Linked DNA regions of Homo sapiens: all the other regions are linked to region 4. Evidence: fine-mapped expression QTL. A gene starts in region 4. Each other region holds a variant in brackets. All regions are shown on one strand. Distances are between the middles of the regions.

The links. PIP is the estimated chance that this variant, and not a neighbour inherited with it, causes the effect.
Region 1: its variant is the best candidate, but not a certain one, in a credible set for the expression of ZNF282 in testis (GTEx, PIP 0.62).
Region 2: its variant is the best candidate, but not a certain one, in a credible set for the expression of ZNF282 in whole blood (TOPMed, PIP 0.59).
Region 3: its variant is the best candidate, but not a certain one, in a credible set for the expression of ZNF282 in whole blood (TOPMed, PIP 0.53).
Region 5: its variant is the best candidate, but not a certain one, in a credible set for the expression of ZNF282 in whole blood (INTERVAL, PIP 0.58).

What each region holds. Positions count from the first base shown.
Region 1 is chr7:149,226,578-149,231,669 of GRCh38, reverse strand. No RefSeq gene overlaps it. Among named protein-coding and RNA genes, the nearest start is that of ZNF212, 11 kb to the left of the region's middle. RefSeq lists a silencer at 4,856-5,063. The variant G/A (reference allele first, on the strand shown) is at 3,116.
Region 2 is chr7:149,219,572-149,224,664 of GRCh38, reverse strand. ZNF282 (zinc finger protein 282) reads right to left here. Exons shown (of 8, transcript NM_003575.4): 8 at 1-853. The coding sequence ends at 18. Among named protein-coding and RNA genes, the nearest start is that of ZNF212, 18 kb to the left of the region's middle. RefSeq lists an enhancer at 3,838-4,827. The variant C/T (reference allele first, on the strand shown) is at 1,955.
Region 3 is chr7:149,109,432-149,114,532 of GRCh38, reverse strand. ZNF425 (zinc finger protein 425) reads left to right here. Exons shown (of 4, transcript NM_001001661.3): 3 at 2,238-2,396. Among named protein-coding and RNA genes, the nearest start is that of ZNF425, 14 kb to the left of the region's middle. The variant C/T (reference allele first, on the strand shown) is at 2,161.
Region 4 is chr7:149,192,604-149,197,704 of GRCh38, reverse strand. It overlaps ZNF282 (zinc finger protein 282), which reads right to left and starts at 2,159. Exons shown (of 8, transcript NM_003575.4): 1 at 1,951-2,159. The coding sequence starts at 2,115. RefSeq lists an enhancer at 1,092-1,141 and silencers at 1,582-1,941, 2,062-2,383, 2,202-2,491.
Region 5 is chr7:149,546,584-149,551,684 of GRCh38, reverse strand. TRC-GCA16-1 (tRNA-Cys (anticodon GCA) 16-1) reads right to left here; the gene lies at 5,074-5,101. It also overlaps the pseudogene ZNF767P. Among named protein-coding and RNA genes, the nearest start is that of TRC-GCA16-1, 2.6 kb to the right of the region's middle. The variant A/T (reference allele first, on the strand shown) is at 2,096.

The DNA.
Region 1 (5,092 bases), 34 kb before region 4:
TCCCCAAATCCTTGAAGTGTGGGGCAGGGGCACTGGCTTTGACACTATATGTAGGATGGGTCTGAAGCTATTTTTCAGTTAAAGGATATTGACACCATCAGAATGAAAGGTATGGGGACACCCAGATAGTCAACACTGGCTTACACCTCTAATACTAGATACAGAACTTGAATCTTGAATGGGAGACATCAAAGGTAGTCTTTTTTTTTTTTTTTTTTTTTTTGAGACGGAGTTTCACTCTTGTTGCCCAGGCTGGAGTGCAATGGCACGATCTTGGCTCACCACAACCTCCACCTCCCAGCTTCAAGCAATTCTCCTGCCTCAGCCTCCCGAGCAGCTGGGACTACAGGCATGCACCACCACACCCGGCTAATTTTGTATTTTTAGTAGAGACAGGGTTTCTCCATGTCGATTAGGCTGGTCTTGAACTCCTGACCTCAGGTGATCCGCCTGCCTTGGCCTCCCAAAGTGCTGGGATTACAGGCATGAGCCACCATACCCGGCCCAAAGGTAGTCTTTTATAACAAAGAGAGTCTTCTGGTAAACCTATAGAAATTATCATGCTGAGGGGTGACGTGGATTTAAAATATGTCTAGGCCAGGCACAGTGGCTCATGCCTGTAATCCCAGCACTTTGAGAGGCCAAGGCAGGAGGATCGCTTGAGCCCAGGAGCTCAAGGCTGCAGTGGGTCATGATCCCACCGTTGCCCTCCAGAGTGAGCGACAGAGCGAGACCCTATCTAAAAAAAATAACACATTAAATTAAATTAAAATATGTCTAAAGAAGTTTGAACAGAGGTTCCCAACCTTTGGGATACAGTGCCAGCATCTCACTAGCAGAGTGACTCTTATGGAAGGAGACATCTGGGACCCTTGTCAGTGGGGGCTGGGGGCTGTGTATGATTCTGACAGATATTCAGGACCTCTCATCTCAAGAATTACCAGTTTAGAGATATGCCTCCCTAGCCGGGCACAGTGGCTCATACCTGTAATCTCAGCACTGTGGGAGGCTGAGGTGAGTAGACCACATGAGGCCAGGAGTTCGAGACCAGCCTGGCCAACATGGTGAAACTCCATCTCTACTAAAAATACAAAAAGTAGCCGAGCATGGTGGTGCACATCTGTAATCCCGGCTACTCAGGAGGCTGAGTCAGGAGAATCGCTTGAACCTGGGGGCAGAGGTTGCAGTGACCCAAGATCGTGCCACTGCACTCCACCCTGGGCGACAGAGAAAGAGCCTGCCTCAAAGAGAAAGAAAGAAAGAAAAAGATATGCCTCCCTAATGACTCCCTAGGAGGCATGGCCTCCCCCAAACCGTCCTCCTGTGCTCTTCCAAAACAGGGTTCTGGGCCTCTAGGATGCTCTATCGCATGTTTTTGCAGTAACAGCTGGATGGACAAATGCTGTGAAATTATAGGCACAGGCTGGCTCATCCTGAGCCTGGTATGAAGTTTCCTACTTTCCCCCTTTACTCCCTGCCAATACCCAATACCCAGGGCCCAGATGTCAGAGAGCTGGTCATGGTGCCCAAATCTTTGATCATAAGATAACTGCCTTTACCTGTGTGTTTTGGGGTGTTTTTCATTTTTGGTGGTGTCTGACTTAAACCTGCCTTCTTGAGACTTCCATTTCATCCTCTGGCCTCCTTTCAGCGCTATGCATTCACTGTTTCTGAAGAGTTCCAAAAGGGCTGCAGCTCTGTGGGGCCCAGACCACCAGCAGCTGGTCCACGGCCTCTGGCTCTGCCAGTCTTCTGCCTTTCAATCCCAATTGCATTCTCCCCAGTGTGTTTCACCCTTGTCCCACATTGCGTCCTCCCTCCTTTCCCTCTGCCCCATCCAATTCATCCTCTAGTCCCTGACTTCTCCATGAAGGTTAATCTCACGCTTATCGTATCATGAGCTCTGACTCCTCCCATCAACTCTGCTGTCAAGCAAATTGTACCACCTTAGGGTGCCAATTTCCTCTTCATGTCTGTTGCTCAACTCCGATCACTTGTACCCCCTGTGGTGCCCATCCAGGCTAGACACGTGCTAAATACTAAAGAGGTATTCAAGTGAACAAAATGCAGAGGCCAGCATCCTGAGTGTCACCATCTTTGATCAGCTCTGTGGTTAGAGCTCCCTACGGGACTCTCCTAGGGCCTGTGCTGGGGGCTGGGGTGACTCACGGTGTAGTTGAGGGGCACTAGTGCAGCGGGATCCCCCAACCCAGGATCCAGGAAACCGGAGACTTAGCCTTGACCATCACTAGCTCAGTATGGCTTCTACAGACCAGTATTTTCCCAACTTCTCAGCGGGATGTCCTGCAGCGAGCCTTCCAGAAGATCAGGCGTATATTTCTCAAGCCCCCACCCTCATGCAGTCATATGCTTTCTAGTAGTGTTGTTCTCACAAATACCTTCTCTCCTTTAGACGTCAGGCTCCCAGAGGGCAAGGACTAGGTCTTACTCTTCTTTGTTCCCTAATAGATGTTCATGAAACAATAACAATGCAGCCATCCGTCCATCCTCAATCTCATTCTCCTAACACCCTGCCTTGCCCTTTCCATAAAGTAAGGCACAAACTGAGGCCATGAGCATGAAGTTCCCTGAGCTGTCCACCCATCTCAGGAAACGTTCTACTCTCTTGAGCTTTTTGGAGCAGCAACCTTTGCAGAGCACTCCTTGTACCTGATCATCTGGTACAGTGCTGAGGAAGGAATGCTACAATCCAGATGTCCCTGTTAGAGCTTCCTAGGCTGATGAGGACAGAAAGCCCAGAACAGCATATCCTGAAATGAGGAAGTAATTTGAATGTCTGGGAAATTGAACACAGGTCTGTAAGGACACAGATGCAGCTTTCAGCAGTGGATACTTCCAGGAAGTGTGTTAGGAAAGAGTTTCACTCTTTATTGTGTCCTCTTTTCTTTTTCTTTTTTTTTTTAAACTGTTCGAATTTTTATTGCATGCATTGTGTGTGTTTTTTTTTGTTTGTTTGTTTGGTTTTGTTTTTTTTTTTGGAGACGGAGTCTCACTCTGTCACCCAGGCTGGAATGCAGTGGCACAATCTTGGCTCACTGCAAGCTCCATCTCCCGGGTTCAAGCGATTCTCCTGCCTCAACCTCCTGAGTAGCTG[G/A]GATTACAGGTGTGTGCCATCACACCTGGCTAATTTTTGTGTTTTTAGTAGAGACAGAGTTTCACCATGTTGGCCACGCTGGTCTCAAACTCCTGACCTCATGATCCGCCCGCCTAGGCCTCCCAAATTGCTGAGATTACAGGCGTGAGCCACCATGTCTGGACTGCATTGATTTTTAAATTAAAAGTCAATTAAAAAAATAGGCTGGGTTGGGCGAGGTGGTTCACACCTGTAATCCCAGCACTTTGAGAGGCCGAGGTGGGCGGATCACTTGAGGTCGGGAGTTAAAGACCAGCCTGGCCAACATAGTGAAACGCCATCTCTACTAAAAATACAAAAATTAGCTGGGCATGGTGGTGGGGGCCTGTAATCCCAGCTACTCCGGAGGCTGAGGCAGGAGAATCACTTGAACCCAGGAGGCGGAGTTTGCAGTGAGCTGAAATGGCACCACTGCACTCCAGCCTGGGCAACAGAGTGAGATTCCATCTAATTAATAAATAAATAAATAAATAAATAAATAAATAAATAAATAAAAGGCCAGGTGCAGCAGTTCACATCTGTAATCTCAGCACTTTGGGAGGCTGAGGTGGGAGGGTTGCTTGAGCTCAGGAGTTCAAGCCCAGCCTGGGCAACATAGCAAGACCCTATCTCTACAAAAAGTAAAGAAAAACAAAATAGCCAGGTGTGGTGATGCATGCATGCCTATAGTCCCAGCCACTGGGGAGGCTGAGGCAAGAGACTGCTTGAGCCCAGGAGTTCGTGGCTGCAATGAGCAATGATTGAATCATTGCACTTCAGCCTGGACAACAGAGTGAAATCCTATCTCTCTCTTTTTTTGAGGAGTCCCGCTCTGTCGCCCAGGCTGGAGTGCAGTGGTGCCATTTCGGCTCACTGCAACCTTTGCCTCCCGGGTTCAAGCGATTCTCCTGCCTCAGCCTCCCAAGTAGCTGGGATTACAGGCACCCACTATCACGGCCGGGTAATTTTTTGTATTTCAGTACAGATGGGGTTTCACCATGTTGCCCAGGCTGGTCTCAAACTCCTGAACTCAGGCAATCCATCCACCTTGGCCTCCCAAAGCGCTGGGATTACAGGTGTGAGCCACCATGCCTGGCCTGTCTCTGTTTTTAAAATTTTTTTCTTTACTCTAGAGACAGGGGTCTCACTATGTTGGAAGGGCAGTCTGAAACTCCTGGTCTCAAGCAATCCTCCCACCTCAGCCTCCCAAAGTGCTGGGGTTACATGAATGAGCCACCACGCCCAACCGGATTGCTTCAGCTCCAGAGGTCAAGGCTGCAGTAAGCCAAGATTGCACCACTGCACTCAGCCTGAATGGCAGAGCAAGACTTTGTCTCTACATAAACTACATTTTCTCAGAAGGAAAATAAAAATCCACCCCCAAAGCAAAACCCCTGTTCTGCTTCAGGATGTGGACTCCAGGGTCTTCACTGAGGATCTTCGCTGCCTGGGAGCCAGCAGAGGCTAACATCCTGAGTGTCACCATCCCCGATCAGCTCTGGGGATGAGGCTCACTATGGGATGCTCCAGCAACCTGTGCCAGGGCTTGGGGCGACTCATGGTGTAGCTGAGGGGTACTTGGTGCAGTGGTATCCACCAGCCTAGGATACAGGAAAGCAGAGAGGCTTGGCTCTCACTAGCTCAGTCCCTAGGTCTCCTTGGGAATCAGCCCCTTGAAGGTAAAATAAAGGGATCACACTGAGCCTTGTGCTCAGGTGTTTTTTTGTTTTTGAGTCGGGGTCTCGCTCTGTCGCCCTGGCTGGAGTGCAGTGGTGCGATCTCCGCTCACTGCAATCTCCACCTCCTGGGTTCAAGCGATTCTCCTGTCTCAGCCTCCTGAGTAGCTGGGATTACAGACACCCGCCACCACGCCCGGCTGATTTTTGTATTTTTGGTAGAGACGGGATTTCACCATTTTCGTCAGACTGGTCTCAAATTCCTGACCTCGGGATCCGTCCG
Region 2 (5,093 bases), 27 kb before region 4:
CCTCCCCCAGCCCAGCCCTAGTCTCGCTCAGGAGGCGGCGGGAGCTGCCGTGGGGCGCCGGGGCCCGGGCCGCCGCTGTGCACGCGCAGGTGGTCCTTGAGCGACTCCTTGTAGCGGAAGCTCTTGCCGCACTCGCCGCACGTGTAGGGGCGCTCGCCCGTGTGGATGCGCTGGTGCTTGAGCAGGTTCTGCTTGCGGATGAAGCTCTTGCCGCACAGTGCACATTGGAAAGGCCGCTCGCCCGTGTGCAGCCGCTGGTGGTTCTGCAGGTGCTCCTTACGGCTGTAGGTCTTCTCGCACTCCGAGCACTTGTAGGGCCGCTCGCCGCGGTGCGTCATCTGGTGGCGGATGAGGCCCGAGTGGCAGTTGAAGCTCTTCTCGCACTCAGCGCACTCGTAGGGCCGCTCCTTGGTGTGGCTGCGGTGGTGGATGATGAGGCTCTTGCGCACGCCGAAGCTCTTGCCGCACTCGGGGCACGAGTAGGGCTTGCTGCGGGCGCCGTGCAGGAGGAGGCTCCGCCGCAGCCCGCCAGGGCAGCAGCTGCCACAGCCGCCGCCTGCCCCCGTCCCCGCCTCCGCGCCGCCGCCCCCACCGCCCCCATCGCCCCCGCCGCCCCCGGTGCTGCGGTCCCCACCCGGCGGCGCCTCGCCGGAGCCACGCTCCCCGGGCAGCACCTGGAAACCGTCGTCCAGCAGCCCTCGGCTCGGGGGGCCGCCCGGGTTCTCGGCCACCGCGATGGGGGGCAGGCTCTGGGGCTGGGGCTGCGACTGCAGCTGCGGCTGCGGTGGCTGGGGCTGGGGCTGGGGCTGTGGCGGGGCCGGGGGTGGGTTCTTCACCATCAGCAGGCTGTCACCTGGGGAGATAGGAAGAAGTGACATGCTGACAGGGGTTCTCGGCCAGGACCCCACACTGCTCCCGAAGGGGGGCCCAGGGAGCATGCTATCTGAGCCTCAGTTCCACTAACTACGAGGGATTGCACAAGGTGCTGGGCCACGATCTACGTGGCCCTTCGACCTGTTCGAAGCCACCCTGCTGTGGAGCCCAGAAACGGGTCAAGCAGGTGGCACGCAGCAAGGACAGGAAGTCCCTCCAGAACGCTGAGGGCTAAGGGGTAGGGGACCTGCTGTCCAGAAGTCATTTTGGAAGGCAGAATTTCCCAGAAACAACAAGACTTACTTGCAGTCTGATGGACAATGTTTTTTGTTTGTTTGTTTTTCCAGACAGGGTCTGGCTCTGTCTCCCAGGCTGTAGTGCACTGGTGAGATCATGGCTCACTGCAGCCTTGACTTCCTGGGCTCAAGTGATCCTCCCACCTCAGCCTGCCAAGTAGCTGGGACCATAAGCATGCGCCACCAGGCCCAGCTAATTAAAAAAAAAAAACAAATCTTTTCGGCCGGTCGCAGTGGCTCACGCCTGTAATCCCAGCATTTTGGGAGACCGAGGTGGGCGGATCACCTTAGTTCAGGAGTTGGAGACCAGCCTGACCAACATGGAAAAACCCCGTCTCTACTAAAAATACAAAATTAGCCGGGAGTGGTGGCCCATGCATGTAATCCCAGCTACTCAGGAGGCTGAGGCAGGAGAATCACTTGAACCGGGGAGGCAGAGGTTGCAGTGAGCTGAGATCTTGCCATTGCACTGGCCCAGGCATCCAGCCTGGGCAACAAGAGCGAAACTCTGTCTCTCAAAAAAGTAAATAAATAAAATACAATTTAAAAAGGCCAGGCGCAGTGGCTCACGCCTGTAATCCCAGCACTATGGGAGGCCGAGGTGGGTGGATCACGAGGTCAAGAGATCGAGACCATCCTGCCCAACATAGTGAAACCCCATCTCTACTAAAAATACGAAAATTAGCTGGGCATGGTGGCACGCACCTGTAGTCCCAGCTACTTGGGAGGCTGAGGCAGGAGAATCACTTGAACCTGGGAGGCGGAGGTTGCAGTGAGCTGAGATC[C/T]TGCCACTGCACTCCAGCCTGGCGACAGAGCGAGACTCTGACTCAAAAAATAAATAAATAAAAATAAAAAATAAAAAATAAATTTTTGTTGAGACAGGGTCTCACTATGTTGCCCAGGCTGGTCTCCAACTCCTGGGATCAAGCAATCCTCCCACCTTGGCCTCCCAAAGTGCTGGGATTACAGATGTGAGCCAGCACACACACTGACAATGCTCACTTTTATCTCAGGACAGTCTCTCAATAGGAAGAAAAGAATTTTATCCAAGGTGAAAACCATCTAGAGGCCCACAGGAATGGAATGCAGGGAGCTGGAAACATAAGCATCAGATGGGTTGGCAGTCATGTTTCCACTAAGCATGTGGGGCATCTGACTTGGGCAGGTGTGGGCAGCTGGGACATGTGAGTCCCACCCTGGCACCTGACCCACCTGGACCTTGGCAGCACCATAACAGGCCCTCCTTGCACTCGTGGCAGTGGCCACCCAACCTACCACCCCAGGAAATGCGGTTCTTGCCCCCTTTCCTCCAAGTGCACAGTTCTCCACCACCTTGGGGGGCAGTGGGAGACAAAGCCCAGGCTCTGAGCATCAGAATGGTGACGTCAGGCCCAGTCCTTCCCCCTCCCACCCACCCTGTCCCCCAGCCCAGTGGTTCTCATGCCTCACGCTCCATCACCTCCCTGGTCTTCAGTTTGAATTCCTTTCTCCCTAGAGGAGTCCTGCTCCCCAATTTAGGGGAAGCCTGTGGAAGAGCTCTGAAGAAAGAGACGGCCTCCCACCTCTTCTCAGCATCCTTTTCTCCGTGCTCACACCCCTCTGCCTAGGACCCAACTGCTCCCCGGAGGCCACTTCCCAGGCCACATCTGCCATGTTTCCACCCAGCCCTCCTATATTCGTTGGTGTTTGACTGAGGTCTGTCCTTATATGATACTCTTAAATAGACTGGGCCTGCCCTCCCTCTCTGTCTCAATCAAAATTGGCCTGGCAGAGAACCATCTCTGCAGGACACTGGCCAGGTGCAGAGGCCAAAAGAATTCTCTTCACATCAGTGCAGGATGCCTGGGAAGGGTCATCCCAGCTCCAGAGAATCCCGGGAGATCGCTGTGGCCTCTGTGGCCACGGCACTGAGGGTGTTTGCTTCTCTGTCTACCCAGTCCTGCTACTCTCACTCCTTCCCAGGTGTTATTCCCAGAGGACTTGCAAAGAAACTATATGCACATAAACTCCCAGGGGCTGTCTCCCGGGAAGCCCACCTAAGGCAGTCCTACTCTGACCGTCTTCCAACCCAGTGTGAACCTCAATCCACGTTCTCACCATCCCGCTATGCCCTCCACCTCCAACCTTTTTCTGCCTTCCTGACCCAACTTGGCTCTCCAGGCCCGGCAGCCCAGGCACTTGCAAGGGCACGGTGATTGCCTTTGCTCCGCCGTTGTGCTTGCCTGGAGAACTCCAGTCCTGTGACTGCACTCAGGCAGCTGAAAAACTGCACAAGCTGGCCAGGCACTGTGGCTCATGCCTGTAATCCCGGCACATTGGGAGGCCAAGGCAGAAGGATTGCTTGAGCCCAGGAGTTTGAGACCAGCCTAGGCAACCTAGGGAGACCCCATCTCTACAAAAAAACATTTAAAAATTAGGTACTGTGACACACGCCTGTGGTCCCAGCTACTCAGAAGACTGATGCGAGAGGATTATTTAAACCTGAGAGGTCGAGGCTGCGGTGAGCCGTGATCGCGCCACTGTACTCCAGCCTGGGTGACAGAGTGAAACCTTATCTCAAAAAAAAAAAAAAAAAAAACCCTCCAGGGGCCTCCACACAGCCTGGCATCCTGGCCCACGTCTCTAGTGGGTTTTACTTTTCCACTCTGGAATGATTACGTCATCCTTCCTCCTCTATCCTACGCCCCTCCCCCCCAACCCATGCATGGCCCTGAGGGCTTTTCCTTTCCAGTCACTGGCTGGTAAGTGATTCACATGCAAGCATGTAACCTAGTTATGGTCAGTAGGGTATGGGAAGTTTGCTGGGAGGCTTCTGGAAAGATTTCCTCATTCCTTAGAGTGTGCAGGAAAAGATGGGCTTTCCTGTACACTCATGTCTGGATGCGACGCTTGGGACAGCTGCAGCTGCTGTGCTACCAGCCTGGGGATGAAGCCACACCGAGGATGGTCAGGCAAGGAATTGGAAAGAACCTGGGTCCTTGAAAACATGCTGAGTCTTTGAATCAACTAAGCCTGAACCTGACCTACCTTAGGACTTCCAGTTACGTAAGAGAAGAAATTTCTTTATTCTTTTTTTTTCTTTTGGAGACGGAGTCTGGCTCAGTTGCGCAGGCTGGAGTGCAGTGGCGCGATCTCAGCTCGCTGCAAGCTCCGCCTCCTGGGTTCACGCCATTCTCCTGCCTCAGCCTCCCGAGTAGCTGGGACTACAGGCGCCCACCACGACTACGCCAGGCTAATTTTTTTGTATTTTTAGTAGAGACGGGGTTTCACCGTGTTAGCCAGGATGGTCTCGATCTCCTGACCTCAGGATCCGCCCGTCTCGGCCTCTCAAAGTGCTGGGATTACAGGCGTGAGCCACCGTGCCCGGCTTCTTTATTCTTTAAGGCAGTTTGAATCAGGGTTCTAAAGTAGTTGGGAGCATCTGACCCGAGACAATGGTCTAGTTATCTCCGACCTTAAAAGAACCCCCTCCCTAGGCCCATGTGGCCCGTGCCCCAGCTCCTCACATGTCATTTCTGTTCCTTTTCATAGTAAGACTCATCAAGAGTCACTGCACTTGCCCTTACCACTTCTTCACCTCCCATTCTTTTTAGATGATTCCAATCAGGCATGCACCCTTGCCATTCCACTGAAAAACTTTTTCGTTTTTGAGACCAAGTCTTGCTCTGTTGCCCAGGCTGGAGTGCAGTGACACAATCTCTGCTCACTGCAACCTCCACCTCCCAGGTTCAAGCGATTCTCTTGCCTCAGCCTCCCAAGTAGCTGGGATTACAGATGCCTGCCACCATGCCTGGCTAATTTTTGTATTTTTAGTAGAGACAGGGTCTCTCCATGTTGGCCAGGCTGGTCTCGAACTCCCGACCTCAAATGATCCACCTGCCTCGGCCTCCCAAAGTGCTGAGATTACAGGTGTGAGCCACCACA
Region 3 (5,101 bases), 83 kb after region 4:
CCAGCAACTCAGGAGGCTGAGGCAGGAGAATTGCTTGAACTCGGAAGGCGGAGGTTGCAGTGAGCCACTCTGTGCCACTGCACTCCAGCCAGACTGTGCCCTGCACTCCAGCCTGGTGACAGAGTGAGACTCCATTTCAAAGAAAAAAAAAAAAAAAAAAAGGCTGGGCGCAGTGGCTCACGCCTGTAATTCCAGCACTTTGGGAGGCTGAGGCAGGTGGATCATGAGGTCAGGTGTTCCAGACCAGCCTGACCAACTTGGTGAAACCCCGTCTCTACTAAAAATACCAAAAAAAAAAAAAAAAAAATTAGCTGGGCGTGGTGTTGCACCCCTGTAGTCCCACCTACTCAGGAGGCTGAGGCAGGAGAATCGCTTGAACCCGGGAGGCAGAGGTTGCAGTGAGCCAAGATCACACCACTGCACTCCAGTATGGGCAACAGAGCAAGACTGTCTCAAAAAATTTTGTGAAATATTGCAGAGGATATTTAAACTGAACAGTCTTTTTTTTTTTTTTTTTTTTAGACAGAGTCTCTCTCTATCACCTAGGCTGGGTGCAGTGGCACAATCACAGCTCACTGCAGCCTCAAACTCATGGGCTCAAGTGATCCTCCCAACTCTGCCTGCTGAGTAGCTGGGACCACAGGCATACACCACCGCACCTGGCTAATTTTTAAAATTTTTGGGCCAGGTGCGGTGGCTCACGCCTGTAATCCCAGCACTTTGGGAGGCCAAGGTGGGTGGATCACGAGGTCAGGAGATTGAGACCATCCTGGCTAACACGGTGAAACCCCATCTCTACTAAAAATACAAAACATTAGCCGGGCGTGGTGGCAGGCGCCTGTAGTCCCAGCTACTCGGGAGGCTGAGGCAGGAGAATGGCATGAACCTGGGAGGTGGAGCTGCCAGTAAGCTGAGATCATGCCACTGCACTCCAGCCTGGGCGACAGAGTGAGACTCCGTCTCAAAAAAAAAAAAAAAAAATTTGTAGGAATGGGGTCTCCCTATGTTGCCCAGGCTGGTCTCAAACTCCTGGGCTCAAGCAGTCCTCCCACCTCAGTCTCCCAAAGTTCTGGGTATACAGGCATGAGCCACTGCACCTGGCCTGAACTAAAGTCTTGGTAAGGCTTTATTCTATTGTCATTCATGTCATTTCAACGGCTTTCATTTTTTTGACTTAACTTTGATCTCAACGTCTCTAGGAATCGAAGTCAACTATGAAAATGATTTTTATTGTGGGTAATGGTAAAAAAGAGAGAGAGGCCGGGCACGGTGGCTCATGCCTGTAATCCTAGCACTTTGGGAAGCTGAGGTGGGTGGATCTCTTGAGGTCAGGAGTTCGAGACTATCCTGGCCAACATGGTGAAACCCTGTCTACTAAAAATATGAAAATTAGCCAGGCATGGTGGCACGTACCTGTAATCCCAGCTACTCGGGAGGCTGAGGCAGGAGAATTGGTTGAACCTGGGAGGTGGAGGTTGCAGTGAGCCGAGATCGCACCACTGCATTCCAGCCTGGGAGACAGAGCGATACTCTGTCTAAAAAAAAAAAAAAAAAAAAAAGGGTCACGGGGCTGGGCGCGGTGGCTCACCCCTATAATCCCAGCACTTTGGGAGGCCGACGCAGGCAGACTGCTTATGCCCAGCAGTTTGAGACCAGCCTGGGCAACGTGGCAAAACGCTATCTCTATAAAAATACAAAATTAGCAGGGCATGGTGGCGCATGCCTATAGTCCCAGCTACTCAGGAGGCTGAGGTGGGAGGATCAGTTGATCCCCGGGAGGCAGAGGTTGCAATGAGCCAAGATTGTACCACTGCACTCCAGCATGGGTGACAGAGTGAGACCCTGTCTCAAAAATAAAATAAAATAATAATGATAATAATTTTTAAAAATAATTTTTTTTGAAACGGAGTCTCGGTCTGTTGCCTAGGCTGGGGTGCAGAGGCGCGATCTCTACTCACTATAACCTCCATCTCCCAGGTTCAAGTGATTCTCGCACTTCAGCCTCCCGAGTAGCTGGTATTACAAGCGTGTGCTACCACGCCCAGCTAATTTTTGTAATTTTAGTAGAGACGGAGTTTGCTGTGTTGGCCAGGCTGGTCTCTAACTCCTGACCTCAAGAGATCTGCCTGCCTTGGCCTCCCAAAGTGCTGGGATTACAGG[C/T]GTGAGCCACCACACCCGGCCAAAAAAATTATTTAAGTATGCAGTAAACTCAAAGTCTGTGTGGACTCTATTTGCAGGGTATGCTTTTTCCAAGCCAGATTTGATCACATGGATGGAACAAGGGAGAATGCTATTAATCAGCGAACAGGGATGCTTAGATAAAACAAGAAGGACAACTAGCCCTCCTACTGATGAACAGTTGAACATGAAGAATACTGGAAAGTTGCTATGTTTTGGTGAGTAAGATGGATTTAAGATCATGAATTATTTTATTTTCCTAGCCTTGTTTCCTGAATCTTTCTTTTTGGATATCTGACTAGATCTAGTCAATAAAAAAAGTTGTTTTGATGGAGAATGTTAGTTTTCTTTACTCAAGAGGGTAGCAAATGTGGGCTGGGCGTGGTGGCTCATGCCTGTAATCTCAGCACTTTAGGAGGCTGAGGTGGGTGGATCACCTGAGGTCAGGAGTTCCAGACCAGCCTGGCCAACATGGTAAAACCCCATCTCTACTAAAAATACAAAAAAATTAGCTGGGCGTGGTGGCAGGCACCCACAATCCCAGCTACTCTGGAGGCTGAGGCAGGAGAATTGTTTGAACGTGGGAGGCGGAGGTTGTGGTGAGCCAATGTCATGCCATTGCACTCCAGCCTGGGAGACAGAGCGAGACTCCATCTCAAAAAAAGAGAGGGTAGCAAATGTGAGACTGTATTATGTATTACTCTCATACAGAAAGTTTTATATAGATATATAATTTTTTTTTTTTTTTTTTTTTTTTTTTTTTTAGACAGAGTCTTGCTCTGTCACCCAGGGTGGAGCCCAACTGTGCAATCTCGGCTCACTGCAACCTCTGCCTCCCGGGTTCCAGGGATTCTCCTTCCTCAGCCTCCAGAGTAGCTGGGACTACAGATGCCTGCCACCACACCTGGCTAATTTTTTTGTATTTTTAGTAGAGAAGGGGTTTCACCATATTGGCCAGGCTGGTCTCAAACTCCTGACCTTGTGATCCATCCAACTCGGCCTCCCAAAGTGCTGGGATTACAGGCATGAGCCACCGCGCCCGACACCCGGCTAATTTTTTGTATTTTTAGTAGAGACAGTGTTTCGCCATATTGGCCAGTCTGGTCTCAAACTCCCGACCTCAAGTGATCCACCCATTTGCTCTTCCAAAGTGCTGGGATTATAGACGTGAGCCACCATGCCTGGTGTGGTGATATATGTTATTTAAAAAAAAACAAATCCTGGGAAGAAGATGACAATTCCTTGTAAAGGGCAAGGGATGGCCGGGCGTGATGGCTCATGCCTGTAATCCTAGCACCTTGGTAGGTCAAGGCGGGTGGATCACCTGAGGTCAGGGGTTCGAGACCAGCCTGGCCAACATGGCGAAACCCCCTCTCTACTAAAAATACAAAAATTAGCCGGGGGTGTTGGCGCATGCCTGTAATCCCAGCTACTCGCGAGGCTGAGGCAGGAGAATTGCTGGAATGCAGGAGGCGGAGTTTGCAGTGAGCCGAGATTGCACCACTGCACTCCAGCCTGGGCGACAGAGTGGGACTCCGTCTCAAAAAAAAAAAAAAAAGAACAAGGGATCCATTTGTCAAAACCCTGAGAGGAAAAACCACTCCTTGTCACACTGTCATGTCCATTTGAATATACAGAAATGAAAAACCCTGTAATTTTGTACAAAATTTTTTTTATTATACAGAACTTTAAAACTTGGGTTTTTAAAACTCCTTTTGAATTCCTTGTGACATAAGGGAGTATTTCACTTTTTATAGTGCGCGAATGCTTTTCTTTTTTTTTTTTTTGTGAGATGGAGTCTCACTCTGTCGATGAGGCTGGAGTGCAGTGGCACCGTGTGGGCTCACTGCAACCTCCATCTCCTGGGTTCAAGCAATTCTCCTGCCTCAGCCTCCTGAGTAGCTGGGATTACAGGCACCCACAACCACGCCTGGCTAGTTTTTATATTTTTAGTAGAGATGGGGTTTCACCATGTTGGCCAGGCTGGTCTCGAACTCCTGACCTCAGGTGATCCACCCACCTCGGCTTCCCAAAGTGCTGGGATTACAGGCGTGAGCTACCGTGCCCGGCTGCACAAATGCTTTTCTAGGTTCTTGGGAGTCAAGGAATCCTCTGAAGCAGGAGACTTTGAGGCCAGGAAGTGTGTCCAAGCCCCATCAACAGGATAAAAGAATTTCCTGGTCAGGCGCGGTGACTCACGCCTATAATCTCAGCACTTTGGGAGGCTGAGGAGGTCGGATCACATGAGGTCAGGAGTTCGAGACCAGCCTTGCCAATATCATGAAACCCGTTTCTACTGAAAATACAAAAATTAGTCAGGTGTGGTGGCAGGCTCCTGTTATCCCAGCTACTCAGGAGGCGGAGGCAGGGGAATTGGTTGAGCCCTGGAGGCGGAGGTTGCAGTGAGCCAAGATTGCGCCATTGCACTCCAGCCTGGGTGACAGAGCGAGACTCTGTCTCCAAAAAAAAAAAAAAGAAAAAGAAAATAAATAAAGAATTATCAAGGGTTTCATTTCATTGACACTGTCTATTCATTCACTCATCTAACCAATATCGAGTGCCTCCCACAGTCACAGGAGTACGTTAGGCGAGGGCAAAAACTTTATATAATGTATGTGTATGTATACATATGAATAAAACAATTGTTATATTCTAGATGTTGATCGTCTTACTGACATGGCAATTAAGTTAGCCAATTATATTGAACTATACATAGTTGAATTAGTCAACTATAAAATAAGATTGCATATGACTTAATAAAATATTAAGTAATCCCTAATTCTGTGCTATAGGGATTTAGAGGAGAAGGAGCGGAGGAGAGAGAGCAATATCCCAGGAGGACTCTAAAAGGAATTAGGATATAAATAGCAAAAAATGGGCAGATTTGGTTAGAGAAAGAAGAATCAGTAGGGGTCATACATGA
Region 4 (5,101 bases):
GGTCAGGAGTTCAAGACCAGCCTGGCCAACATGGCGAAACCCTGTCTCTACTAAAAACACAAAAATTAGCCGGGTGTGGTGGTGGGCTCCTGTAATCCCAGCTACTTGGGAGGCTGAGGCAGGAGAATCGCTTGAACCTGGGAAGCGGAGGTTGCAGTGAGCCGAGATGGTGCCACTGCACTCCAGCCTGGGCAACAGAGCAAGACTCCGTCTCGGAACAAACAAATAAACAACAAAAAAACCCACCACATTCCTACCAGGGCTGCAGTCAAGGAAAAGACCGGAGAGCCCAAGCTAGGGCAGAAAAGCAGCTTCCCCCCATATACAACTACTGTTTCATAAACATTTTCCAAATTGAAAATAGGTTCACTAAAAAAGGTCACTCATTAGAGGTGAAGAGGGGATGTCCCTCACACCCAAGAGGACCAAGAGAAAGAAAAACTCCTCTGGGACCCCTCCTTGCTTCCTGGGGAAGGGGTGCCCCATGGCCTGGGGACTCCCCCTTTTATCTTCCAGCACAGAGCCCTCACCCCAGAAGGGTAAACTAATTGGTGCAATTGAGAGCTGAGACCTATGGCTAAGGGGGGCTGGTTGAGGCTGGTGACAGTTCACTGGTCATCTGGGACCTGGTGTCAGACTCAGGGCTCACTGGACCACATGGGCTGGCAGCCGACTCTCCTTCACACCTGGGACAGGAAGAGGTGTCATTTTCTGTCCTCCCGATGGCTGCAGAAAAGGCCCTCAGGCTAGGAAAAGGGGAGGCCTGCTGCTTGGGGCGATCTGGGCAGACCAGCCCCACTCTCTGACTCAAGAGCAGCCCTGCTCCGGGGCAGACCTGCTCCGGGACACAGCAGAGTGGAGAGCAGGGCCCTAGGATCGCCAGGCCCTGTAATACCAGTAAGAGGTGCTGGTGTTTCCATCAAAAGCACCCATTCCTCCATCACAGAGGCTCCACTCCGCCCTAGCCCACAGAAGGGGACAGAGTCCACAGTAGAAGTTAAGAAAGTCCCGGGGCCCAGTTTAGTTTTCTCGGGTTTGAAGCCCTAACCCTGAAAATGATCAAACACAACACAGCAGCCCCTGGCTCCCTCGTTAGCACCTGGCTGAGAGCCGCGTGGTGAGCAGAGGGGCCCCTGAGCAGCCCAGCCCCAGGGTGGGCCCAGAGAGTCTTCCCTGGGCAAGCTTTCAGGCCTCTCTGAGGATCCACCTCCCCTGGTTTTATACCCAATTCTGGAGCACCGGTTCTGCCCACGGAGATCATCGATGGAGCCTGAAGAAATGCCTGGTGCTACTCTCACCCGTCAGAGACCCTGAGCTCTGGGACCAGGCAAGGGCTCAGGAGTCTTAAAAGCTGCCCAGGCCATTCCAACATGCGGCCAAGTTTGTCAACCGCAGGAAAGACCCCGAAGTCATCTCTCCATGGCCCCCTCCCTGGATCACACCCGGTGCAGGGGGAGAGTGAATTACTCATTACACTTGGTGAAAGGTGGTAATCAAACATTTAAAAAATATCCCCGTCAAATTGGCCACCGTGTAAACACGAACGAGGCATTCACTTCTGCGGCCGGGCGGAAGCACTGCCCGCGAAGCTCTCCGCCGGCCGGGCGCAAAGGGAGCCCCAAGCCGGGGCTCAGCCACAGGGTCAGAGCTCTGCCAGGTCCCGGAAAGGACGGTCCCGGCCCCCGCCCCGCGGGGCCTCCGCACTTGGGCCCGGCGACCGCTGCTCCGCGCCGCGCGGGCCAGGCCTGCCCTTCCGGGCCTGCGTCGGGCCCGCTCCGTCCTGCCCGCCGCGCAGCCCGGCCGTGCCCCGCCCGCCTCGGGCCTCGCCTGGGCGCGGAAGCTGGGAGGGCGCCGCAAGGCTACCGGAGGACGGCGCGGCCCGGTCCCGCGGCCCAGCCCGCGCCCCGCCCCCACGGCAGCGCGGCCATGGCGCCGGCGGGGTTCTCCCACCTGCATGGGCGGCATTCCCTCGGCCATTTCCCCGCGCAGCGCCGGCTCCTGGTGGCAGACCTCCTCCGGGGGCAGAGCCTGGGCCCAGCTCCAGCTCCCGCTGTCCAGCCCCAGGCCCTGGATGCCCAGCTGCTGAGGCTGCGGCCGTGTTGACACAAACTGCATCCTGGGAGTGCTGTTCCCCGCTCGGGTCGGCCAGGGAGAAGAAGAACGTTTTCCAGGCGCCTTCCCCCTCTCCGGGGCCGGACAGCTCCATCTACAGCCCGTAGGAGCAAACAGTCCCCTTCGGCGGCGCTCCCCGCCCCTTGGCAGCCCGCGCGCCAGCCAATGGCCTCGGAGCTCCTGCCCGCCTGCGGGGACCTACCGGGGCCACTCCCGGACTGGGGTCGCCACCGCCCCAAAACTGAGAGGCGGCGGCCTCGCCCAGGGGTCAGGCCCCCTCAATCTGGGATGGCCGACTTTAAAGGCCCAAACTATGCGAGGACCTGGACTGTGGGCTTGATTACTGTTAATTCTGCAAATGTATTGGGCATCCCGGGAGAAAATAGTGCCTGACCCTTGTGAAAATTTTGCAGGAGTAATTCTGTCTTCAGACACTTTCTTCTGGCCTTCTGCCTTCCCTCACTCCTTTGCAGACTTTACCTCCCACTCCCCTTCTTCCCAATCCAGATTTACCTGGACCCATCCCAGAGCTTTTGCACTGTTATGGATGATAGAGAAGTGATTCATGTTAAGGTGTCAAAAGAGGGCTGAGCTCTTTCTCCCAGGTAAGGTGCAGTGCATTTTAACAGTGGCCTCTTCAAACACCTTGAAATTGGGTTGGGCGTGGTGCCTCACACCTGTAATCTCAGCACTCTGAGAGGCTGAAGCAGGAGAACGACTTGAGCCCAGGAGTTCGAGACCAGACTGAGCAACATATTGACACCCCATCCCTATAAAAAATAAAAATTAGCCGAGCGCGGTGGCTCACATCTGTAATCCCAGCACATTGGGAGGCTGAGGCAGGCGGATCACCTGAGGTCAGGAGTTCGAGACCAGCCTGGCCAACATGGTGAAACCCCGTCTCTACTAAAAATACAAAAAGATTAGCCGGGCGTGGTGGCGTGGGCCTATAATCCTAGCTACTCGGGAGGCTGAGGCAGGAGAATCGCTTCAACCTCCGAAGCGGAGGTTGCAGTGAGCCAAGATCGCGCCAGTGCGCTCCAGCCTGGGCAACAGAGCGAGACTCCATCTCAAAAAATAATAATAAGGCCGGGCGCCGTGGCTCACGCCTGTAATCCCAGCACTTTGGGAGGCCAAGACGGGCGGATCACGAGGTCAGGAGATCGAGACCATCCTGGCTAACACGGTGAAACCCCGTCTCTACTAAAAATACAAAAAAATTAGCCGGGTGTGGTGGCGGCGCCTGTAGTCCCAGCTACTCGGGAGGCTGAGGCAGGAGAATGGCGTGAACCCGGGAGGCGGAGCTTGCAGTGAGCCGAGATCGCGCCACTGCACTCTAGCCTGGGCAACAGAGCAAGACTCCGTCTCAAAAAAAAATAATAATAATAATAATAAAATAAAAAATAAAAATTACCCGGGCATGATGGCTAATGCCTGTACTCCTAGTTACTCAGGAGGCTAAGGCTGTAGGATTGCTTGAACTCAGGAGTTGGAGGTTGCAGTGAGCTGTGATTGTGCCGTTGTGCTCCAGCTTGGGCGGCATAGCAAAGATCCTGTGTCAAATAAATAAATAAATAAACCTTTAAATCGGGCAGTCATGGTGGCTCACACCTGTAATCCCAACACTTTGGAGGCCAAGGCTGAGGCCAGGAGTTCAAGACCAGCCTGGGTGACACAGCGAGATCCCTTCTCTACAAATAAAACCCTTTAAAGGCAGGTCAGTGTCACTTTGAAACATCAGGCCAGGTCAGAGGAGGAGCCAGGGAGAGGCCAGTATAAGCTGATGAAGATGGAGGAGGGGAAAATTCAGTCATTCCAAATGTATTTATTGAACACCTACTGTGTGCCAGGTACTGTTTAGGAAGAGGGTGAGCTTTGCAGTTGCATACACCTGAGTTTAAATCCCAAAATCACCACTCACTAGCTATGACTTTGAGCAACTTATTTAACTTCTCTGAGCCTCATTCTCTTCATATATAAATGAAGAAAATAATGGCAACTCTATTTTAATGTTGTAAAATTAAATGAGAATTGTGCCTGGCACATAGCGAGCATTCTGCAAAGATAGTTACCCCCAAAAGGTGTTTTTGTAATTATTCTCAAAATAGTATTTACTTTGTTTTCCTAAAGGACCAGTCCCTGTCTTGTTAAGGAAGAGATCTCTGAGGCTCATCACCTTGTGTGGAAGCAGACCTGCTAGTACCTTTAAGTTCCACTGCACTTCATAAAATAAAGGACATTATTGGCCTACGTGAGACATGTGCTTAGAAGGCCATATTCAGAAGAACAGTTACCAAGTACTTTCTCTGCTAGGCACACTTCTAGGATACAGAAATGAGTATTCACAGACTTAAGATTATCCTCAAGGAGCTTATAGGCCAGTAAAGTCCATGCTCCCAGAAGTCAGTGATTTCCTTCCCTGCTTCCTGGCCCTGATTGTAAACATCACGTCCACTTTTATTAGAGGAACCAGGCAAGTTAAGTCTGAAAAGCTCTAGGCAAATTCATTTCCACCAGCGAGCCACATTTCAGAACACGTCTTCTGCACTGTAGATTATCAACTATCTTTTCTCTTTCCTAGAGGTGATAAAGGAAGGACTAGGTTAGTCCCAAACATTTATGCTATCTTTTCTGTATAAAGCCTTTAAAATGACTTCCCTTCCTAAGCACTTAACTAGTTATAACGATGTCCTTTGTTACATAGTAAGACATCGCTGTAGTGTGTCTACTTCACATTTCTCCTTCACAGCGGGTGGATTTTCATGCAGCCATCAACACTATCACCCTTTGTGACCAGAGTAGTTGCTCAGAGCTAGAGGTCCCATTCATTGTTAAGATGATCCCAGTACTTTGGGAAGCCGAGGCGGGCAAATCATGAGGTCAAGAGTTTGAGACCAGCCTGGCCAATATGGTGAAACCCCATCTCTACTAAAAATACAAAACTTAGCCAGGCATGGTGGTGTGCGCCTGTAGTCCCAGCTACTCTGGA
Region 5 (5,101 bases), 350 kb before region 4:
ACGCACAAAGAATGGCCATAAAAGATATGAGTATGTTGAGTGATTAGTGATCGGAAACTACGAGTGATATGGTACAGGTGTTTGTAGAAGAACAGTAAAGCCATTGATCAGGTCAGCTATCAATGAACTCCTGCTAGAGAAGGGGTGGTCTAGGCCTGAGTCCTAAAACTTCGTTAGTGATGTCAAAAGTCACAGTCCTTTTGAGGCTTCAGAGACCTCAGTTGTCTGATTATTTCTGTATCTCCATGCAAAGCCCATGACTCCTGTTTTATTCTCACCCCTACCTGTGATAAGCCTGAGACACTCCATGCCTTGTAATCCAGTGGCAATATCATCAGGGTGGGGGCTGGCTGGCTGCTCAGGTGGGCCCCCCAAGCAGAGTCTCAGCATAAGTACCATGTTTAGGTCTCACCTTTCTGCAATGTTTGAATTTCACCCAAAGCCACAATTTCAAAAAATGAACATTATTTCACAACTCTAGATCTTCCCAATTACAGGACTATTCACACTCCCTAATCAGGACCCCTTCCCACATCAGCACAGGCAGGGGGCTCTGCAGCAAGGCTGATGTTAGGGTGGAGGTGGCCTGCAGCCCCTGGAGTGTTTGCTGCACTGGGCCAGAGCGTCCTGTCCTCTGCCTGCCCAACAGCAGAGCCCCCTCCCCAGGGATTATTCAGGTCCTGCTGGGAGGAACAAACACCAAGTCACAGTACCTTTCCCCTTCATATATGTTTCTAGGCAACCCCAGCTTTCCAGACAGTCACTTTTCCCAGTGGTCATACCTGGTCTGGAAGATTCCCCATCATCTCGAATAAAGGTAAGCACTTCCTAAGTCCCCTTCAGCAACACATGCACAAACCGCCTCTTAGAGCACGTACCTTCTGCAGAGAGACACGCCCAGAGGGTGAGCTGATTTTTAAATTACAGTAGCTCCCTAGCTACCAGAAAAGCCCAAGTGAGATCTGAGGAAGTGGTTCTAGCTTCTCTATCCACCTGCCCTCCAAGGAGCTGAAGACTTCAGGCTGAGGAGGGCTGGCTGAAATGGCCAGAAGAGGGGACTGAAAGGGAAGCAAGGTGTCCTCTTAGTAGGGGAGCAGGCCTGCTAGTAAACCAGAGCCACTCTGGGTGTGAAGAAAGAGCCGCAGGCAACAAGAGCGTGGGACTCAGCTTCCAGAGTCAGAGATACTGCTCAGCCAGCCCAGGTGCCAGTGCCAGGGTGCAGTAGCTGAGTGCAGACTAGGAGGCCTTGCTTCCAGTTCAAGCGCCCTTCATCTGGGCTTGCATTAGTCAGCAAAGGTGGTTCTGCACTTCCCATTACTTTGACCCAGGAAGCCTGGTCCTGAATCTGTAAAGTCTATAAGTAAAACTACAGTTGACTTTGAACAACACAGGTTTGAACTGTGGGTCCACTTAACAGACAGATTGTCTTCTATCTTTGCTGCCCCCAAGACAGTAAGACCAACCCCTCTTTTCTTCTTCAGCCTACTCTGTGAAGATGACAAAGATTAGGACTTCTATGATGATTCACTTCACTTCTACTTATTCCATAGGAAATAAATTTTCCCTTATGATTTTCTTAATATTTTCTTTTCTCTAGCTTTATTTTAAGAATACAGTATATAACACATAGAACATATAAAATATGTGTTCATTGACTGTTTATGTTATCAGAAAGGCTTCCAGTCAACAGTAGGCTATTAGTAGTTACATTTCAGGGGAGTCAAAAGTTATATCCGCATTTCTGACTGCAAGTTGGTGGGTAGAAGTCATAGGGGAAAAAGAAGTCTGGAGAGCTGAAAAAGGACGGAGGGTAGCTCTGAGCTGCATTGCATGGAACCAAATTCTGTGTGGTGACTATAAAGCCCTTCCATCTTTAGCATCCTGTTCCCCTGCTACTCCCTGCACCACCTTCCCTGCTCCACTCCCCACGCTCCCCGTCCTCAGGCACTCCAGGACCCGCACTTGATGCTGGCCTCTGCTGAGGCTCCTTCTGCCTGCACGGCTCCTGCCTGTAGCACTGCAAGAGCAAGGCCAGGCTTCCTACATGAGGCTCCAACTTCTACACTCTTCAAAACTTGAAAAGAAATTGACTTGC[A/T]CCTTAGAAAGTGGCAGTGTTTGTCTCTTAGGCTAATATTTTATGGGAGTAAGCAGATTGCAGCTACAATTATGTTATTATGGACTGTTATACTCTTGTTCAGGGAGAAAAAATCTGCTAGGGATTAAGCAGAATTGGGTTCACATCTTTGCTTTTTTTTTCTTTGTTTAAAAAGTAATTATTATTTTTTGTTTGTTTCGGATCTTTGCTTTTAGCTGTTGTTGCTTTTAACTCCATGGAGAGACCGAATGGAGTGAGCCCAGCAGGGCATGCTGGGCAAGAGAGGTCCCCCGAGTCCCAAATAAGAATTTCAACTAGTATAAAACGAGGCAGCGAACCCACACGTGGAAGTCTGATACCGCTTGCAGAAGGGAATTGAATAGATGTCTCCCTATTGGTAAGGATGTGGTTTTATTGACTTGAAATAACAAAGCCCGCAAGCAACAACTGATCATCCGCGGGATGCTGCCACAAGGAATAATTGAGCACTCATTCAGACACAGGGGAAACCACTGCCTCTTTCAGTCTTTCTCCCAGATTCCAACAGTCAGTGTTACAGCATTTCACCTTGTTCACCTCCCTGAGAAGACGTTGCAGCTCACTCACCCCAGTGGGCACTGGGAGCCTCTGCTCAGGTGGGAGACAGATGCCCCCCACATGCACATCTGGTGTTTATGAAGCAGATACTGGGGCTTCATAAACACAGAAGGGGCAGGGAAGTAGCCCCAGGGCATAGTGTGGGGCCTCCTGACTAAAAGTAGCTTGCAAACCCCTGCCTATAACAGCCACTTCCTGGCAGTCATTGTGCCACTTAGGAGCCCTCCTCACCGCTCTTCCTTTAGTTCCTTCACTCTGTATAGACCCTGCCAGAGCAGCTCAGGGTGGAGCAGCTGCAGCCATGGGACCTGCTCCAGGCAAGGCCCTATGCTACACAGTCCCTGGGGGTGAGGATTCCAGAGGAGTCAATTCCCTACCCGCCCTTCCAGGGGATGGCCGAGATGAGCGTTCCCACAGGGAAAGTGAAAGTTGCAAGGCTGTTGCGGAAACACCAGGGGTTCCATCTAGGTCTTGCTGCTCATCTCACAGAAAGCCAGTCACTGAGACAAGTATTGTCAGGGAAGAAGGCTTTATCCAGGTGCTACAGACAGGGTGAACAAGAGATCAGTCTCAAATCCATCATCATCAACTGACTAAAATTAGGGGTTTATATAGCAGGGAAGAAATGTAACTACATGTGGGAAAACAGGGATTAACGAGGGGCAAGGAAGAGGAGTTGGCCAACAGGCAGCAGGTGGTCACCTGGGGAATCATGATGGGTGAGGGGTCTGGCTTCTCACTTTCCAGATGTGGGGATCTGGTAAATTTCAGTTTCTTGATACCGTCTGGGAGGATTGCTGGCTGGTTTCCTGAGAAAGGAATTCAGATGACATAAATGTAAATTTCTCCTTGGGTTTCAAGACTGAGAGGGTCAATTTCTAGGTTTATTCAAGAAAAACCATAAACATCAGTTCTATGGGACAATTGGGCCCATTTCAAGGCTCTGAGGATAAGGGTTAATGAGGGGACAGAGTCGCCTGGAGAAGTTCACTGGGGCCTACAAGAAACTAGAGAGGCTTCCTGGCAAAGCTCTATGCTGTCTATCCTCTCTTCTCTCCTTGCAGGAAGATTCCAGTATAATAGACCCGAGGTGAAAAGGCTTTTGTTCAATAAGTAGAAAACTGAAGGGGGGTGGGAGGCACATGGATTTGAACCAGAGACCGCTTGGCCTGCAGGCAAATGCTGTACCTTCAGTTGCACCCCTCACTTGTTACAGCTGTTTCTGATAAGCACTTGTGCAGCCCCATCAGCACCTCGATTTCTTCTTGGTGAGTCCATGGGAACAGCCCCACTGCAAACAACCCATTCCTGCTCTCCTCTTTCCTCTAAACCTCAACCTCCTCCTACCTGGCAGTCCACAGGCCTACAGCTTCTCCTCAGTGGGAAAGACATCAGCTTGGAAAACCACTTGGAAAGCCAACGTTATCCTAGAAAAGCTTTTTAAATGACCCAGCAGGACAAGTCTCCGGATGGCCTTGGCCAACCCGGTGCTTCCCTCTTTTCTTGGTTGTAGTTCTCAGAATAACTAGAGAATGTACTGGGAGTGTTGTCCTGAGATAAGGAGGAACTGTCCTAAACCTGGACTCTGTTCCCATCACACCTAGAACAGGATGTCCTGCAACGCTTTAGCCCAATGATCCAAGTTGCCCTTGGGGTATAAAACTTGACAGCAGAGGGCGTTCAGGGTCCCTCAGCTGCAGTGTGAAGTGGGACACACAGGTGAGACTCCATCTGCCCTGGGCAGGTTCCTGAGCCTTGGGGGACCAGTTCACCCTACATCCCAGGCTTCTGTTGTCCCTTGCCTGCCTGTAAGGAATAAAGTTGCTTTGCTTAACTTGCTGTGTGAGTGTTCTGCATCACTGGACTCGAGCAAGTGGTACAAACTGCAGATTAATAACTGGTACGTGGTGAATCTGCTTCCTAAGTGTTTGCTGAATTTTGCGGCCCAGGAGATCATCTGGTGTTTCTGTGATGTGGGAAGATTAAAAGAAAGAAAAATCAAACCTCACACCTAACAAATCAGAATCTCAAGGTGGGACCCAAGGCATCTGTATACTTGACCACCCTCCCAGGTCATTCTGGTTCTCAGACATGTTTGGCAACTTTGATTTTAGTCTATACTTGCATGTTATATGCCTGAAAGAAAAAACAAAGACTAAAGGCCTGCATGAGTTCACACATCACCTTAATAACAAGATCATAGCTAGAACCACATTCCTAGTTTTGGGACTTTCCATTGCCGCAGCCCAAAGGATGACTAGATTCCTTTCCATCTCTTCTCCCTCCACTTCCTTCCCAGGAACCTCCCCTCAACCTGCCATAGGACCTGGGGCAACCTAAAGGTACCAATTGGTATGTGGTACTAAAAAGAGACTCTTTCCAGGGGGCACCTGGATTTGAACCAAGGAC